Linked DNA regions of Homo sapiens. The protein of the gene in region 1 purifies or fractionates together with the protein of each later gene. This does not show direct contact. Each region holds a gene or a part of one and is shown in the gene's direction. Other genes may lie near its edges.

Evidence for each region.
Region 2: the proteins of KHK (region 1) and AGL fractionate together in Homo sapiens (co-fractionation; one large-scale study listed by BioGRID). This does not show direct contact.
Region 3: the proteins of KHK (region 1) and NPEPL1 fractionate together in Homo sapiens (co-fractionation; one large-scale study listed by BioGRID). This does not show direct contact.
Region 4: the proteins of KHK (region 1) and SULT1C4 fractionate together in Homo sapiens (co-fractionation; one large-scale study listed by BioGRID). This does not show direct contact.

The regions. Positions count from the first base shown.
Region 1 is NC_000002.12:27,095,557-27,099,169, forward strand, and holds part of KHK (ketohexokinase), read left to right. Parts: intron 1-1,172; coding exon 1,173-1,245; intron 1,246-1,946; coding exon 1,947-2,093; coding exon of another isoform or gene 2,094-2,507; exon of another isoform or gene 2,508-2,522; intron 2,523-3,613. UniProt on the Homo sapiens protein: Catalyzes the phosphorylation of the ketose sugar fructose to fructose-1-phosphate.
Region 2 is NC_000001.11:99,848,493-99,853,996, forward strand, and holds the start of AGL (glycogen debranching enzyme), read left to right. Parts: upstream 1-1,868; 5' UTR 1,869-1,923; exon of another isoform or gene 1,924-2,126; intron 2,127-2,128; exon of another isoform or gene 2,129-2,406; intron 2,407-2,482; 5' UTR 2,483-2,550; coding exon 2,551-2,632; intron 2,633-4,068; exon of another isoform or gene 4,069-4,177; coding exon of another isoform or gene 4,178-4,211; intron 4,212-5,504. UniProt on the Homo sapiens protein: Multifunctional enzyme acting as 1,4-alpha-D-glucan:1,4-alpha-D-glucan 4-alpha-D-glycosyltransferase and amylo-1,6-glucosidase in glycogen degradation.
Region 3 is NC_000020.11:58,702,238-58,707,105, forward strand, and holds part of NPEPL1 (probable aminopeptidase NPEPL1), read left to right. Parts: intron 1-3,260; exon of another isoform or gene 3,261-3,332; intron 3,333-4,868. UniProt on the Homo sapiens protein: Probably catalyzes the removal of unsubstituted N-terminal amino acids from various peptides.
Region 4 is NC_000002.12:108,380,550-108,385,417, forward strand, and holds part of SULT1C4 (sulfotransferase 1C4), read left to right. Parts: intron 1-1,162; exon of another isoform or gene 1,163-1,212; coding exon 1,213-1,338; intron 1,339-1,835; coding exon 1,836-1,933; intron 1,934-2,543; coding exon 2,544-2,670; intron 2,671-2,866; coding exon 2,867-2,961; intron 2,962-4,868. UniProt on the Homo sapiens protein: Sulfotransferase that utilizes 3'-phospho-5'-adenylyl sulfate (PAPS) as sulfonate donor to catalyze the sulfate conjugation of phenolic compounds.

The DNA.
Region 1 (3,613 bases):
TCCCTTCAGGGTCCCAGGCCACTCAAGAGAGGCCCCATGGGCCTAGACACTTCTTATCCCTTGCAGACTCCCTCCTGCAGGATTTTAGAGGTTTAGTGTACTAAGAACCTAGTACGTGCCAGGTACTGTTATGGCTGAGAGGGCCCAAGCCCAGCAGCCCTCAGGTTCAGGCTGTTCCTACGGCCCAGCCTGACTGCCGGACCTGGAGGAGGGGCAGCCATCCCTGGGCTTCATATGTGCAGTGAGTGTGAGTAGGCAGGCATATGTGCTACAGGTGACCTTCGCATTGGGCAATCCTAGTCAAATGCTTGTTAAGCAACAATCCGTAGTAACCCTGATCAAGGACACAACATAGCTATTTACAGGAGAGGAGCTCTGAGGAGAAATGTTTCTTGCCCACTGGCCTCAGTCCAGGCACATTCACACACATTACCTGCAACTGCAGCAGGCTGCAAGGGGGCTGGGGGTTTCAGCCCCATTTATCAATGTGGAAGTTGCCTCCCAAAGGCCCGGGCAGATCACACAGCTATAGTTAAGTGGAAGGACTCGGCTACAGAACGTGGAGCGGGGACTTTGGCTGAGTTGAGGTCTCTGGCTCAGGAGGGTCAAGGCAGACCTCTATCGGGAGTCCCCTTTCCTAAACCGGCCAAACACAAACTCTTCCTCAAGTGCTACCTTGACCTCAGGGTTGCAACGGGGAGCTATTAAACGCAGGACAGGGGTGCCATAGGTAAACCCCAACGCTGGGGCGCCAGAAGTGAGGGGGACCAGACAGCCCAGGCAGGGGGTCGCGGGCTTTATACTTTCCCAGGGCTCTGCCTGTGGGAGCCGTGTGCTGCTGCAAGGGATTCTGGGAAGTGTAGGCTTGGCGCTCTCAGTGCATTCTGGGAGATGCAGTCTCCAAGGCACACAGACCTTGCCAGTTGACATGTGTTGCAGTTCAGTTTACCGAGATAATTTAATCACAACCTCAAACTCAGGAAAGGGCACCCCAGCAGACTGTAACAGGGACAACCCTGGAGCTGAGCCTGAGAATCCTGTGCTGTGGATCCAGCTTCCTGTCATGCTGCCAGCAGTGCAGGCACAGGGTCCACAGCTGCCAGTTAGAGATCCTGGCTCTGCCTGACCCCATCATGCTCCTTCTTCTCTGTCTTTTCCATCCTGTGACCTAGGAGCCTGCCAGATGTGTCTGCTACAGACTTTGAGAAGGTTGATCTGACCCAGTTCAAGTGGATCCACATTGAGGTAAGCCCTGCCTTACCTGTGTTTCAAGGGGCTCAACCTGCCAGCCTCCTCCACATGTTCTGCCTCCTTGGTTTCTTTGAATCATGAAGTACCTTAGAGATAAATGAACCCAACCCCCTCATTCTCTCTCCATCTTTCCTTATGTCTTCAGGTGAGAAAACTAAGGCCCAGAAAGATTAGATGACTTACTCAAGGTCACACAGCAGAACGTAAGCACAGCTGGCTCCAGGCAAAGTCCTGTGCTTTCTGTGCTACGGGCTGCCCCATTGCCTCCAACTCTGCCTCTGGCGGATGTCTGACTGCTTAGGGCCTGACCCATTACCTCTGGGGAAGCAGGAAGGACAGGGCCTGACTCAGCTCCCAAATAAAGGGAACTAGAGCCTTTACTCCAAGAGAGGTTTTGGAGTCTGGGTGGAAGGAAATCCTGAGAAGTCCTGAGTTCTAGCTCCATCATTTAACCTATGGTAGGTCTTTCACAGTATCTTTTATTCTTTAGTCTTCTCATCTGTGGAATGGAGTAGCTGGTTGATAAGGTCTTCAAAGTCCACGACAGCTCTGAATGTTGTAATTTAGGATGGGGTTCTAGCCCAGCCTCCCCGAGGCCCTCTCCCTCCTCACCCAGAGTTTCAGCGGGGCAGGAAGAATGAGGCAGATTGGCCAGGCAGTGCCCAGCGGTCCTGAGCTGCCCTGTCCTGTACCAGGGCCGGAACGCATCGGAGCAGGTGAAGATGCTGCAGCGGATAGACGCACACAACACCAGGCAGCCTCCAGAGCAGAAGATCCGGGTGTCCGTGGAGGTGGAGAAGCCACGAGAGGAGCTCTTCCAGCTGTTTGGCTACGGAGACGTGGTGGGTGCCCCATTCAGCCTCTCTTTGCCACTTCCAGCTAATTTGGTTCTTAAAGGGAGCCAGAATCCTTTTATCCTGCCTACCACAATTGGAATAGTGGTTCCTGGTTTGGTGGTGTTTGAAGATGGGGGATGGGGGTTAAAGCAAAGAAGTAGACCCCTAGCCTTGGGCTCCAGTGCAGGCCTCAGCAGTGAGCAAGGAGTAGAATGTCTCCACCCCAGGTGGGTGCATAGGTGTAAGAATGCCCAGAGGGCTTGGGTAGGGCTTAAACAGCCACAGGGCAAGCCTGTGTGGAAGCATCTCCTCTCTGGGGCTCCCCAGTCTTTTCCTCTGCAGAATGAGGGCACACAACTGTTCTCTGAGGTTTCTTCCAACTCAGGGGTGTCTGGCAGGTTGTGGGGGCTGCTAGGGTGAGGGAAGGGTGGGAAGGAGACTTGCATGAGTCTCTTTTTGAAAAGGCTGGATGTAAATGGAATTTGGGAAGTAATCCCAGCATCATAGCAGAAGTTGGTTGGAGACCATCCAGCCAAGGTCCTCAACCTTGTGACTTGTCCTCAACCTTGGCTGCATATTAAAAAAGATGAATGCAGGCCAAGTGTAGTGGCTCACACTTGTAATCCCAGAGCTTTGGGAAGCTGAGGTAGGAGGATTGCTTGATGCCAGGAGTCCAAGACCAGCCTGGACAACATAGCAAGACCCCTGTCTCTATGAAAATAAATTAGGCCAAGAGCAGTGACTCATACCTGTAATCCCAGCACCTTGGGAGGCCAATGCAGGAGGATCACTTCAGCCAGTCATTCAAGATTGCAAGACCCTGTCTCTATACAAAAAAAAAAAAAAAAAATTCCTGGCATGGTGGTGTGCACCCATAGTCCCAGCTACTCAGGAGGCTGAGGCAGGAGGATTGCAGTGCCTGAGCCCCACCATCTTGTTTTTGATTGGCAGGGGTAGAGCCAAGGCTTCGGTGTTTTGTTTTTTGTTTTTACCAAAACTTTCTCTGGAGATTCTAAAGTGTAGGTAGTGTTGAGGGAGCCTCTTTGTTTTCCAGATGAAGAAACCATACCTAGAGGACATAGTTGTGGGAAAAACCAGCAAAACTGCTCCAGGGAGCCAGCATGGCGGTGGTAGATTCCACCCCAAGGTGGCGCTCAAGGCTTTCTGTGGGTTTTCAATCCATTGATCAGAGAACAAACGGACCAGGCCTTTTGTTTTACAATTTACAAGGCTGTATTCTATTATATATAAGCATCGATAAAAATATGCTTCTGGCCAGGTGCAGTGACTCACACCTGTAATCCCAGAAATTTTGGGAGGCTGAGGCAGGAAGATCATATGGGGCCAGGAGTTCAAGACCAGCCTCAGGGAGACCATCTTCACAAAAAATAAAGAAAAAAGAAAACCACGTTCCCGTGGGACAGTGAGATGCTACGTTGGGGATCTATGTGGACATGTTGGGGGAGTCGTGTTGTAATGGGGGCAACGCTAGGCTGCTGTTGGTGAATGACGAGTTAGAAGTGACC
Region 2 (5,504 bases), on another chromosome or scaffold:
ACTTTCTCTTGCTTGAATAACTAAAATAGCTTTCTAACTGGTCTCCTTGCTTCCTTCCTTGCTACACTCTACAGTTTATTCAACTATTTCCCATAAAGTTGCGGAGCGATCCTTTTAAAAGGTCAATCAGATTATGTCACTCCTCTGTTCAAAATCTCCATGGCTTTTTTTCCAAAGTTTAAAAGCCCAAGTCCTTGCAATGGCCTACAAAGCCTTAAAAGATCTGGTCACCCGTCTGTGCTCCTGATCCCTTCTCCTGCCCCATCTGTCTGTCCTAATCTCTTACCACTCTCTTCTTCACTCAGCTATGGTGATCTTCTTCGGTTCACCAAGTATGCTCCTGCCTCATGGCCTTTGTACTTCCTATACCTCTACATGTAACCCTCTACCTTAGACTTCTTCTTTCTCGCAGTTTGGCATCACTTTACTGAACGTTATATTTAGAAATGCAAACCTCTCTCTGCTTACTCTTCCACACTTCCCCCTTCCTATTATATATAGGATATAACATATCCTTCTTATTATATAGGATATATTATATCCTGTATAATTTATTTAATTTATCTGTCTCCCACCAATAAAATGTAGGAGTTCCTTGAGGGCAGTGACTGTTTTATTGCTGCATTCCCAGCACCTTATGTGCCTGGCAAATAGTAGGGGCCAGAAAATGAGCTGTGGGTTCCCAAAGTCAGTTACGGACCATTTGCAACTAGCCATTCTCAGAAATCTACAGAAATAAACAAATACTTCAGTATGGGGTTTTTTTTTTTAACTTATATCCTCTTTGGACCTACAGTCATTCCACAATAAAGAATGCAAGAATCTTCTCCACACGCCACAAGTCTTAGTTAACCAAATCTTCTGTCCATTTTCTCATAACCATTAGGAGCCCTCCAAAAGCCCTGGAAGATGGGTTTTCCTTTACCCTCAGGCATTAAATCTCCTTAAGCATCTGCAAAAAGTTCTGAGTTACTGGCCTAACATAAGTGCAGCTTAATCTCAGACGATCTCCGGGTCTATCTAGTGTACATGAGGTACACCCGGACACCGTTAAGTATCAGTGGTGTTTGCACTCTCGATGGTTTGCAGACTGGCCACACCTTACCTACTGGGTCTGCATTCAGGAACATGTGTCCTGTCTGTTAGCACTAGAAGTGATGGACACGTGTTGGCTGGAATGTCAAGGCTGTAGCCAGGCCCCTTATTTTAGACACTTAGAAATCAGGACTCTGAGAACTTAGGCCAAGTAAAAATTATCAAAACAAAGAAACAAAACACGTGGTGGCACAAAAGACACCAGAAGCCAGGTCGTTTGCCCCTCACCATTCAGCCCTTCCCAGCAAAAGATCCTACTGTGCAGCTCAACCTAGCTCGCAGCCGGTACCGCGGGATTTTAATGTGCAACTGTGAGCTCGCAGGCTGTTAAAGGAAGGCCGCGCCTTGGCCGGTGCACCTTCCCCAGGGCAAGGAGAAAGCGCCGCTCCCGGCCTCAGCCGCAGCAGGCTCCAGGTCCCCCGGCCCGGAGCCGACTGAGACGGTGCGGTGCCCACGCTCTCGCGAGACTAGCGGTCGGGGCGGGCGGGTCGAGCCTCCCGGAAGTGGGCCAGAGGTACGGTCCGCTCCCACCTGGGGCGAGTGCGCGCACGGCCAGGTTGGGTACCGGGTGCGCCCAGGAACCCGCGCGAGGCGAAGTCGCTGAGACTCTGCCTGCTTCTCACCCAGCTGCCTCGGCGCTGCCCCGGTCGCTCGCCGCCCCTCCCTTTGCCCTTCACGGCGCCCGGCCCTCCTTGGGCTGCGGCTTCTGTGCGAGGCTGGGCAGCCAGCCCTTCCCCTTCTGTTTCTCCCCGTCCCCTCCCCCCGACCGTAGCACCAGAGTCGCGGGTCCTGCAGTGCCCCAGAAGCCGCACGTATAACTCCCTCGGCGTAAGTGCTAGGAATGCCGCTGGCCTCGCGGGGAAACGCATTCTTTCTATCTATAGCTCGCTCTGTACATCTTCTGTCTACGGCAGCTATTCCAGAGGCAACAACTGCTTCCCTCTGTTCTCATCTCCCCATTGGTGGCTGGCGACCCGAATTTGGGAATGGGGAGATTGCCCACCTGTTATCTTTGAGCAGACTAATCTCTTGTAAGCAGAAGTGCCATTCGGAGTCTCCAGAGCCCTGTGGCTTGGGGCTGGGAATGTCCCCCTGACTTCAGGCTTTCCTAAGTGTATTGCTTTTCTCTGAGAATGGTCTAGGTTTTTAATTTTTTAATTGTAAGAATCTGTAATACAGCATTTTTATTTCGGTCTTATTCGTTGTGCTCAAAGGCAGGAAACAACTATTAATTTGCCTTCTCGAATCTTAATAGTTATAAGATTCATTCTCTTTCATTGCTCTGCTAGGCATAAAACACACTTCGAACATGTAAGTGCCGCTGTCAGCTCTGGAGAGTTTAAGGCAATAGTTATTTTCGATATTTTAACTCCTTTTTGTTTCATAGGGGTAACTCATTCGACTGTGGAGTTCTTTTAATTCTTATGAAAGATTTCAAATCCTCTAGAAGCCAAAATGGGACACAGTAAACAGATTCGAATTTTACTTCTGAACGAAATGGAGAAACTGGAAAAGACCCTCTTCAGACTTGAACAAGGTCAGTAGCAAGTTGTTTTGATTTGCTCATTTGCGTCTTTTAAACTTTTAATTCATTGGCAGTCCTGTTAAATGTTTTAAAGCTCTAAGATAAATATTATTTCCAAGGGTCTAAAACTTGATTTGTGCAAAGATGGTGCTGTGTTCTCCATATATCACTAATTAATGTTGATTTGAATTAAAAATATTTTATATCCCTCGTGTTAGGATAAGGATAAAATAGTTCTCTTTTCTCTGCGTACTAATTCCCACTTAAGATTGAAGTTAAATATATGATCAGAAGATTGCCCATATTATTTCTAATAACATTTACTATTAAAACTTGGTAAATTACTTCATATGTAATTTTGCTTTGGGTATGCATGTAGTTTTGCCTTTGTATAACTGTCTCTTTTCCTTTGTTGAACCTTTGAATTGACAAAATAGATTGCAGCAAAAAGTATAGTAAACTATTGTTTATGTATATCAAAAACTTCTCAAATGTGGAGTAGGTAAAAGCTGAAAATATTTTCTTAGCAAATAAAAAGTGCAATAACTCATCTGGTTATGTTGAACTATATATAGTTGATCTGTATTTAAAAGATCAAATTACTTTTCTACAAGGCTAGTTAATAGATGTTTTATTTTCTTAGCCTTTGTAATTTTTCAACATTGAAGAAGTGTAATATATGAAAAATCCAGTCCCCCTTATTAATGTACCAAATGGATGTTGCTAGTCATAAACATTTCAAAGGAATTTTTAAATTTCGCTAATGTTTTAAGAATTAAATTTTTGAAAAAAATTTCACACATACAATGTGATATCTTCATGCCAAATCCGCGCCTTTTTCCAACTTTGGCATTTAAAATCACTGAGTACCTACTCCATTTTTGGCTTTCCTGACTCTGCACTTTTCTGGTTTTGATTTTTTTTTCCCCCTCCCCTGTTGCATATTCTTGTCAACTTGGTGTCTCTTACTAGGCTCTCTTCCTTTCACTTTTTAATTAATTATGGGTATCTGCTAGGAATTCTTTTTCTGTTCTCCTTCAAAGAATTAGTTACACAGTCTCATGGCCTCAACTGTTGCCTCTGTGCTAATGACTACTTTTGGAGGAAAAGCCTTGAGCTTTCTTCTTCTTGGAAGCTTTCAGCATTTGATGACGGGTAGATCTAGAGCCAGAATTCTCCTGGCTCTGCTGCTAACAAGCTGACTTGGGGCAAGTTACATTAATTCTGAGCATTCATTTCTTTTTTTTTTTTTTTTTTTTTCCTTTTCTCTTTTTCTGAGACAGGGTCTTACTCTGTTGCCCAAGCTGAGTGTTGTGGCATGATCATGGCTCAGTGCTGCCTCAACTTCCTGGGCTCAAGCAGTTCTCCTGCCTCAGCCTCCCAAGTAGCTGGGACTGCAGGCATACATCACTATGCCCCGCTAATTTTTTTTTTTTTTTTTTTTGTAGAAACTGGGTCTCACTATGTTGCCCAGGTTGATATTGAACTCCTGGACTCAAGCAACCCTCCCTCTTTGGCCTCTGAAAGTACTGGGATTACAAGCATAAGCCACCGGGCATGGCCCCAATTCTGAGCATTAATTTATTTATTGGTGAGATGAAAGTGGTAATTTCTGTTCTTCTACCTTTCTAGGTTTTGAGACTCAAAATTAATAATACATGAATTTTTTGTGATAAAGCCCTAAATAAATATAAGGCATTGATATGAATCACTCCATGTATTCCCACCCTGGACCTTGGCTTCAACCTGATATTATGCAATAGAATAGTATTAGGATAGCTCAACTTGGATATGCTTAAATCTAGCATGTCCAAAAATATCCCCTGCCCATTCTCGATCCTTTATTTCTCAGCTTCCCTGTTTATTTCGTGGCATCTCCATTTTTATAGTTCCCAGGGTAGAAACCTTATATTCTTTGATGATTTCTTCTCTTTTCCTGCAGTCTCTTTTTAAGCTTGCAGTTTCTTTCCAAATATCTCTGATTGCCTGTCTATTCTGTATGGCTGAATATAGATGCCAGAATAATCTTATGCAGTCTCTTCCCTTTGTTATTAAGTGGTATGTATAAAATCAAATTTAAATACCTCTGTCTGACTTCTAAGACATTCTGTAATGAGACTACACCTTCCTTAGCCAAGATTGTATCTCATTCTCCATCATTAATGTCATAGATCTTTACAGTTGCCCAAGTCATTCCTGTTAATTCCCTTCTCAGCAGGTTTTCTCATGCCTGTCCTTATACCCGTACTCCCATCAGATTCCTTTATATCTGTTAAATCTCATTTACTGTCAGTCTATGTGTTGCCTAAGTTTCAACTTTCAGCTAGAATATCACCTCCTTTGTGAAGTCTTTCCCTAATTTTTCACTGTCTGCTTCCTTTGATTTCCAATTACACAATGAGCACAGAACTATTAAGTGCTGAATAATGAAGCAGTGTCTAAAGGCTTGTTAGTCTTACAGTGTCAGACTAGGGTTTAAAATCTGTGAGAATTGATGAGGGCAGGTGACTCACACTTGTAATCTCAGTGCTTTGGGAGGCTGAGGCTGGAGGACCACTTGAGGCCAGGAGTTCATGGTCAGCCTGGACAACATAGTAAGACTTTATCTCCACAAAAAAGAAACAAAATTAGCTGGGCATGATGGTGCTTGCCTGTGGTCCCCAGCTACCTAGGAGGTTGAGGCTGGAGGATCTCTTGAGCCCAGGAGTTAAAGGCTGTAGTGAGCTATGATCCCACCATTGCACTCCAGCCTGGGTGACAGAGTGAGACCCTGTCTTTAAAAAACAAAAATAAAGGGCCGGGCGCAGTGGCTCACACCTATAATCCCAGCACTTTGGGAGGCCGAGGCATGTGGGTCACCCCAGGTCAGGATTTTGAGACCATC
Region 3 (4,868 bases), on another chromosome or scaffold:
AGTGCTGGCGTTCTGTTCCCGCCTGGCAGCATTCCCCTGCAGCCAGTGGGCCTGCCCCTGGTGTCACCCATTCTCCAGTTTGGTTTGCGGTAGGCCCCACCACTTGCTGCTGCCTTCCTGACACTGAGCCCTAGTGTCAGCTGCTGTTCAGGGTGGCGCTGGTGCAGCTCGCCGCGCTCTCTAGCACGCCTAGTTTATTTCATACCTGGAGAGGATGAGCAGTTCCCATCCCTCCTCTAAACCACAAAACTGTTTAGAACTAAGCAGAAAATGACACTAATCATAAAAAGGGTTTTTTGTTTTTTTTTAATAGAAAAAACATGCCTCCCTATGGGTCTCTTGGGGTAATAGATGGTGGAATGAATGTTTGTTTCTGGCTTTGGGTCTTAGCATCTACACGTTTGACAATGGTTTCATTTAAATTGATCTTCTTTACTAATGTATGTTCAGTAGGCAGAGTTGCCAGCTGTCTTCACTCATAGTTGGTCCAAGAATACTATCTGTTAACTTTGATTTTGAAGAGCTCCAATCTCGTGAGGCAACAGATACACAGATACTTAGGAAAAGTCTTTAATACGGTATCATTTGGCAGAGATTCTTAAAAATCCCATTTCACAGTAAATTCCAGCAATCACAACACCCACTGTGTGTTCAGTTCTTCAGGGTGGATTCTTGTGGCTTTCAGATGTCTGCAGAACAAAAGCATTTTGGACACAGTAACTCCAAGTGTTCACATGGAATGAGGGAAGTGAAGGAACGCAGGTTCCGCGTCTTCGTTTTGACCATCCCGCACTCTCGTGTTTTATTTTGGGTCCTCTGTTTCGACACCGGGAGGTAGGAAATCATGGGCCCTGGAGGCCCCGACTGTGCCCAGAGCCAGCCCACAGGATCTGACTGTCAGAGCGATTCTCAGAAGGAATGTGGGTAGTAGATTTTGTGTCGGGTCATTGCTAACGTCCATGTAATGTTACTTTCAGGATAAGTAACAACGATATGCGAATTTGAAGCTTTTGTTTGTGTGATTAAAACGCAACCGTAGCCACAGCAATTTTTTAAACTTCAATCAACAACAGATTTTCGGAGGAGGAATATGTTATTGCTGACTTTGTTCAGAGATACCGGCACACGGTGGTAATAAGCAAACTGACTTCTAGTCGGTTATGATTCCTAAATTCGCCACAGATAGTGCACCCCCTACTGCCTGCACCTGGTACTGGCTGCTCCCACCCTCGCACGCACCCTCAATACCCACGGTCACCCTGGAAGCCGCTACATTCTGGCTGGTAGAGTCGTGGACCCTCTTCTCCTTGGATCAGATGCTTGTTTTTGATGTCGGCTTGTTGTGGACCAATGTGAGAAGATGAGCTTCCTGGGAATTCATTCGTTTGCTTGTGGCACTAACTCTAGTCACTTAGGGAAAATATCGTTGCACCTGACTTCATCTCATGTGGCTGTGGGTAGACCTGTGCAGTTAGTCAGCTCCCGGCCTGGAAATTAACACAAAGGAAAAACCTGACCACACAGGCCTTCCCTAGAGGCCACAGCTGCACAGCCTTCAGGGAAGCTGTGGTCTGAGGGTGGCTGGTAGAACTGCCAGAGAGTAGGGCATTTTCCATGGCTCCAGATCACCTTCTGAAAATGCGACTATAGCCCCTGCCTATTCCCGGGGTCCACCTGGTCTGCAGACCCCATAATACCAGGAAGAGCTGGGTGTTCTGGCACCAGTGAAACAATACCTGGTTTTTTATTTTAAACCAGCCCATCTTCCCCGCTGCAGTTGGAACCGTTCTACGTGGATTTGGGATCAACCAGCAGGCCTTTCCTGAGCTGTTACTGTGTGGAGTGGGCGCTGAGGCTCCAGCCATTGATGCAAAGACCCCAATCCTGACCTGAAGGCGCTCACAATCTCTCCCCAACGGCCTGGTGTGAAACGCAGACGCAACGCAGCAGGCATTCTCCCCAGTGGCTGCCTGTAGAGCAAATGGTGCAGAAATGGTCACTCCTCAAAAAGCAAGCCGGCTGGAGCCAGCCCAGCTCCCAGTTTTGCAAGAAAAAAAAAATCACAGCTCCATTTTCAAAGATTTCAAGGGCAGCTCAAGACCAGCCTGGACTAGCAGGCCTCAAATGCATTACTGGAGACCCCTTTACGCTCTTAACAAGTACCGACCCCAAAGAGGCTTTTTGTATAACAATGTCTATTGATATTTACTCTACTGGAAATTAAAAGTGAGAAATTTATAACATGTATAATTCATTAAAAATAACATATAAATCCATTGCATGTTATCATAAATAATTTTATGAAGATAAGCATCTTCCAAAATGAAAAAATAATTTACTGAGAGAGTAGCATTGTTGTACATTTTCACAAATCCTGTCAGTGTCTGGCTTAATAGAAGACAGCTAGGGACCTTGCGTCTGCTTCCGATGTAGTCTATGGAAATGTGTTGTTTCAGTTGAACTGTATCAAGAAAATCTGGCCTCACGCATTTTATAGTTGAAACAGGGAAAAGGATTTTAGTACCTTTTTCAGCTAACTAACTATGAACATTCTTTGCTACTACACCAAAACTCAACAAGTGGTAGCTTCTTAAAGGCTGGTTATAACATGGAATCTGAAGCCTCATGAATAGACTTTTGGGCTCTGTGGCAGTTAAATCCGCTGTTCTCTCTCACTTTGAACATGTGGTTTTTCATGGAAAAATGAATGTTCACTTGAAAAATGTTGGTTCACAGAGTTCTGCAGAAATTCAAATTTTTGACACATTACATTATATAGTATCAAAAAATCACTTAATATCACCATCCATCTCATCAGAAAACTCATTATGAGGAAGTTGTCATGGTGATAGGAGAAAGTTTTTCAAAATTCTGATTTTTGCTTAAAAGCTCAAATGTATACCATTGGCAATAAATAATGTCAGCTGTTTCTGGAAGTAAGAGGCTCAGTTTGTTCCTTTTCTGGGAAATATCTGCCAGATACCTAAATCCAATTAAATGCCATTTGTCTGTCAGTTTTTCTTTCAAGTAAAGATGGTGTCGTGGCCAGAGTGGCTCATGGAGCTCAGAACTCCCCCAGCAATCACAGCTGAGCTTCTGCTCTGACCGACCACTGCCCGTCAGCAACAGCAGGAGTACATTATGAGTCACACGGAATATGGAAAATGTATTGTACCCAAGGGTTGAGAGTTTTAAAAATTAATTTTACTGCTTCAGCAAGGAAATTCTAACGTGAAATTGGCATTGGTTCATTTTCCCAGAGGGCACGGAAACGAATACAGTGGCTCCCGGACCTCTTTGGGACTGTGGCCTGATACTCCAGCACAGGGGGTGTAAGTGTCAGCCCCGTGAAAAAGGCAGAGACCGTCTTAAATCACTGCGAAAATGGTTTCTTCTATAAAAACAGAAACAACATATGGGGGCTGGTGAAACTTTGCACAATCAATCAGTTGAGCTGTATTTGCAAGCCCAGTCCTGGCTCCACCTGCAATTGGGAAGGAGCTGGCAGCTGTGACGGGGGAGACATGGTGTACAGTGAGCAGCCGTTTCCAGGCATTGCTGTGTGACCCATTTTGCACATGGTTTGATTCCAGATCGGAGGCCCTGTTTTTCCATTTAAACAATCCTGTGCTTTCTCAAACAGATTAGCTCAGAAGAGATGGCTTATTTTCAGTAGTACAAGATGGGTCATTTTCACTCAATTATAAAAGCAGCTCAATTTACATCTAAAAATACTTTGCACTAAAATTCAAAGCTTGTGTAATAAGATAAGGGTTCAAAAATGATTCAGTAAATTTCATACCCAAACCTTTACCTCTGAGGACCTGCTGTTAATTTAAAATATGAACTTGTGAATTTGATTTGGGAACCTGTAAAATGTAAAAATGTGTAACACTGTCAACCAGCGTATAGGAAACAGTGTGGACACTGCAGGAGAAGGGTGGCCCCTCTTTAGACCCAGGTTAACCAGGAGGTGTGAACTATTAACCAGGAGGTGTGAACTAGCAGGAGGGCAGAGGTGGCCCCTTCTTCTGGCGATAGACCTGGCAGTGACATGAAGGAGCGACAGGTGTCCTCACTGCTGGTGGTGTCAGTGGGGGTGGATGTGACTGATTTTGGCGAAGAGTTCACATCAACCCTCACCATCATTCAAGGTTGTGATGAGGGGCAGAGAATGCTGAGCCTAAGTCTCGTTAGGTGGTAAAGCCCTCTAAGTGCCAGGGAGAGGAAGCTAGGCCCTGTTCTGGGGGGCGACAGGTGGCCAGGGCAGGTTTGCATTGCGGCAGCAGCCCCTCAGGCTTCCTCCCTGCCATAAGCACACTAGGAATCTGCAATGGGTGCAGGAAGCACGCAAGCCCACCCAGGTCCCTGAGGTGCTGGCCAGGGACCTCCAGCAAGCCCCAGAGGCTCCCTGGACCTCAGCTTCCTTCTCACGCTGTGCGGAGGAGTGGAGAGAGTGGCCCTGCAGACAGACCCCCAGGCGGCGTGGCAGCCCGGGACTGAGGTCAGGGTGCCCGGCGTCAAAGCACGGGGTCCCTGTTTCAATGTCAGAGCCCGGCCACAGCGAATTCTGCAGCTCCGGGCATCTCCTCGGGTTCCCCCTCCGTGCAGTTACTGTTTGATAACCCCAAAGTTCTGTCAAAACAAAAGGGAGCCTCACCATCTATGGCCATGACTCCCTGTTGCTTCTGGAGAACACCCCACTTGGCCAATATGAGGTTCATGAGTTCTGTGGGTGCCCAGGAGGCCTGGTGTGGGGGCTGCCCAGGCCTGAGAGCTGGGGAAGGTGGGGCTAGCGTGGGGCCGGGTGGGGGTGGGGGGCTTCCGCTGCCAGGCCTGGACCTCACAGCTCACCTTTGTCCTGGTCC
Region 4 (4,868 bases), about 81 Mb from region 1:
AACTCAACATCCTCCTAACCTGGATTTTGCCAGAACATCTGGTGCAACAGATCTTCATCAAAGGGTGAAGATTATGTTGATAGCACAATATCACTGTATCAGTCAGGATCAGTGCAAGACACAGACAGACTGAAGCTGGGGGATACCATTCTACCTATGGCCACAGTGGCAGTGGTTGGGTCTAGGGCACTGGGCCATGGAACGTGGAATGGTCTCTGCAAAATTTCTATCTGCTGGGGCTACTATCAGCAGCCACCACCTCAGGAAGGATGACTTCTATCTCCCCACTGCCTTCCAAAACTCAGGCTAATGCATCTCACTGGAGGGATCTAAATAGCCTTCAGAATCTTAGTGGCAAAGGAGTTTAGGGAAGGCCTTTTACAGCCTTTCAGCCCATGAGATATGGGGGAAACAGAGAAAGGCGAAAAATTGAATACTAAGTGCTAATGGTCAATATCAAGTTCAAGCCCTAATGGTTCACTCATTCAGCCAACAAATACTAAGTGTCTCCTACGCTATGCAACTGGGAAAAAGAGAGTTTGAAAATCATGTAGTCATTTCTCTATAGCAGATCACAATTTGGGGAGAATGTCCTTTCTAAGGACAATACAGCTAAATAAATAGAACAATAATAACAATCCAAATTAATAGTTGTGACAGAAAAAAATAAATGTATATTTATCAGTCTAATGTCCATTCAAAATTGGAGTATTTTTTTAAAATCATATTATGATAATAAGATATAAATAAGGAATGCTATCTTCTGAATCCCATTTAAAACCTAGCTTTTAAATTCACATAGATGGTCCAGGCATGGTGGCTCACACCTATAATCCCAGCATTTTAGGAGGCCGAGGCGAGCAGATCACTTGCAAGCAGATCACTTGAGCTCAGGAGTTCCAGATCAGCCTGGGCAACATGGTAAAATGCCGTCTCTACAAAAAGTATAAAAATTAGCCAGGGGTGATTGTGTATGCATGTAACCCCTGCTACTCAGGAGGCTGAGGCGAGAGGATCGCTTGAACCCAGGAGGCAGTGAGCCAAGATTGCACCATTGAACTCCAGCCTTGATACAGAGCAAGACCCTGTCTCAAAAAACAAAACAAAACAAAACAAAACAAAAGACATAGATGTTCTAACAAGTATTTGATCATATTTTAAGGAATGTACTATACTAGATGTCTATTCATCTTCATTTTACGTGCACGTAAGGAACAACATGGACTCAGGAGATAGTGGAATTAATACAAAATGAAGGTGATGTGGAGAAAAGTAAACGGGCACCGACTCATCAACGATTTCCTTTCCTCGAAATGAAAATCCCATCCTTAGGATCTGGTGAGTATAAATAGCCACACTTCACTACAGTCCTAAAATGCACTTAGGATTTTTACTGTCTTTGCACCTTTCGAAATTATAGGCTTTCAAACAATTATTGGTAAGTTTCATGGTTTTGTCTTTTTTTAACTGTGTCTGGCCATTGTTATACTCCAGACATTTTCTAATGGAATTACTGTTTGTACAAAAGTGAGTTAAATTTTGTTTCTCTAGTTAGAAATTAATTTTACTTCAAAAGAATAAGCTCAAGTAAGATAATCCTGGTGAAAGGGTTTGAATTTTTTAGGTTCTTATTTATTTGGATGACTGTTATGGTTAGGAATTGTTCTAGTCAAAACATCTATTCATAGGCTAGACGTATTCTCTCACACCAGATCTACAGTTACAATGTTCTTATAGATGCTTTGAATTGTAGTAGTAATAATGGAAGCAGCAAGACTTGGAAGCAAATAGATAAAAAAAAAATCGTAGAAATTGATCGAAAACCAGTTTTGCAGGTTTGGAACAAGCTCATGCAATGCCCTCACCACGGATCCTGAAAACACATCTTCCCTTTCACTTGCTGCCACCATCCTTGCTAGAGAAAAACTGTAAGGTAAAAAAGCAAAAGGAATTCAGAGTTGTACTCCTTAAAACAACCTTAGTCTTCCATTTCCTCTTAAAACACTTCACTTGTTAAATATATATATATATACCTCTTCACAATAATCAATATGCAAATTAATATGAATCCTAGCCAGGCACGTTGGCTCATGCCTGTAATCACAGCATTTTGGGAGACTGAGATGGGTGGATCAGTTGAGGTCAGGGGTTCAAGACCAGCCTGACCAACACGGCGAAACCCCATCTCTACCAAAAACACAAAATTCACAGGACGTGGTGACACATGCCTGTAATCCAAGCTACTCAGGAGGCTGAGGCAGGAGACTCGCTTGAACACAGGAGGCAGAGGTTGCAGTGAGCCAAGATAGTGCCATTGCACTCCAGCCTGGGTGACAGAGCAAGACTCCATCTCAAAAAAAAAAAAAAAAAAAAAAAAAAAAAGTCTCCCATAACCAGGATGACAAGAATGCAGCCTCAGAAAAAATGAACTGTATGAAATGTATCTACCCTAACATGACTTGCCTGGGCAGTAACAGCAAAAAAAAAAAAAAAAAATTCCTGTTTTTTTGCTTCTTCCCTTCCCCTCCCCTCATCATTCCCAGATAATCTATGTAGCAAGAAATCCCAAGGACAACATGGTGTCCTATTACCATTTCCAAAGAATGAATAAAGCTCTTCCTGCTCCAGGAACATGGGAAGAGTATTTTGAGACTTTTCTGGCTGGGAAAGGTGAGAGAATTTAGCTTTGTTTCCCTTCGTTTCTCAAAATCTCCAAACACCCTAGAAGGAAAGAATCTTTTCTTTTGACCAGCAGGGGCTCTGCCTTCTTTAATGGAACATTCTCACTTCTCTTCAGGAATTCTCCTTTCAGTGGTATAATAGGACCTCTGTGACTCATTGTCCTGTTTTCCATCCCATCCTCCAGTGTGCTGGGGCTCCTGGCATGAACATGTGAAAGGATGGTGGGAAGCCAAAGACAAACACCGTATTCTCTATCTCTTCTATGAGGACATGAAGAAGGTGAGCACAGTGCCATCTAAGGTGTACCCACTGGACCATAAAACATTTAAGTCATAATGCATTGACCCCATCAGGGACTCAGATTGATGCGGGGAACCGAAAATTGCTGCACTTCATTGGTTACAGCTGTCATTTGTCAAAGTGCACATGGCTGATCATGAGTTTAAGTATCACACAGTCTCACCTGCAGCTTCCTGGTGCTCCCAGGGATGCTGCACATTTCCCTTACAGGCAGGTTATTACACAATATGGATGGTGTCATTTTCTCCCTTGCATGTCTATTTTAAAATGCAGTTTAGCAGGAAAAAAAATCCTAGCACATTTTGGTTTCTTTGGTTTTTGGGTTTTTTTTGTTTTTGTTTTTGTTTTTGAGACAGAGGAGGAGTTTCACTCTGTCGCCCAGACTAGAGTGCAATGGTGCGATCTCAAGTCACTGCAAGCTCCGCCTCCCGGGTTCAAGAGATTCTCCTGCCTCAGCCTCCGGAGTAGTTGGGATTACAGTCGCCTGCCACCATGCCAGCTAATTATTTGTATTTTTAGTAGAAACCGGGTTTCACCATGTTGGCCAGGCTGGTTTTGAACTCCTGATCCCAAGTGTTCCACCCTCCTCAGCCTGCTAAAATGCTAGGATTACAGGCATGAGCTACCATGCCCAGAGTTTTTGTTTTTTTATTAGCACTGAGGAACATAATACTTTATTTATTTATTTATTTATTTATTTATTTTATTTATTTTTTGAGACGGAGTCTCACTCTGTCACCCAGGCTGGAGTGCAGTGGCGCGATCTCTGGCTCACTGCAAGCTCCGCCTCCCGGGTTCACACCATTCGCCTGCCTCAGCCTCCCACGTAGCTGGGACTATAGGCACCCGCCAGCACGCCCGGCTAATTTTTTGTATTTTTTACTAGAGACGGGGTTTCACCGTGTTAGCCAGGTCTCAATCTCCTGACCTCGTGATCTGCCCGCCTCGGCCTCCCAAAGTGCTGGGATTACAGGCGTGAGCCACCACGCCCAGCCAATAGCTTTAAGAAACTTTAAGAAGTGGTGCAATGGAAAATACTAATGATTTAGATTCAAAATTATTGAAATCAAGTTCTGTCAATTCTTGGTAAAGACACTTAACATCTTGGGAAATTAGTTTTCTTAAATGTAAAAATGAAGATAATAATATTTACCCATTCAAGATTTATTTGAGGACTAAATGAGATAATATCAGTGGATGTTTATTGTAAATAATCATCTACTCAGCTATTTTCTGTGACCCCACTAAATACAGAGATCTATACAGAATTACAGTGTCTGTTCTTGAATTGGTCGTTGAAAGCCTTGATACTCAACAGGTGCTTCACAGACTAGTTGCATGAGCTACTGGAGCCTGCTGTAGGCCTGCTAAGTCTGGAGTTTTATAAAATTCCCAGGAGATTCAAGCACACATCACCATTTAGATGCACTTCTCTAAGGTTCAATCACTGCTGGGCCTTGTGATATGAGTGAGTTCTACAAAATATCAAAGGAGTGGAAAACACAGACTATTTTCATGTGGTTTTTAAAATAATTGTTATAGCTCTAGGATTCTCAGAAGCATGATCAAAGAACCAGCAGAACAACCTATGAGGTTATCAGTATAAAATTCCCTTCTTTGTGTTTACTTTGTTTTTACTTGGTACAAAAGTGTTGTGCCACCATACGAAGACTCCAGGCAGATGATGTTTCCCTACAGCATGTATCATAGCCATGTCAGAGAAAGGATATGTCGCTGGGAATGGGGCTCTTTTGTTTAGGTAGACCCTAGCGTATTATGCATGCCAGGAAGAAACTTTATCGAAATAGGTAATCTAACCTCAGAGTCCCTAAAACTTTTAAAAATATTGCTGTGATCTTGTTCTTGAATGTCCCCTCACTGTAGTT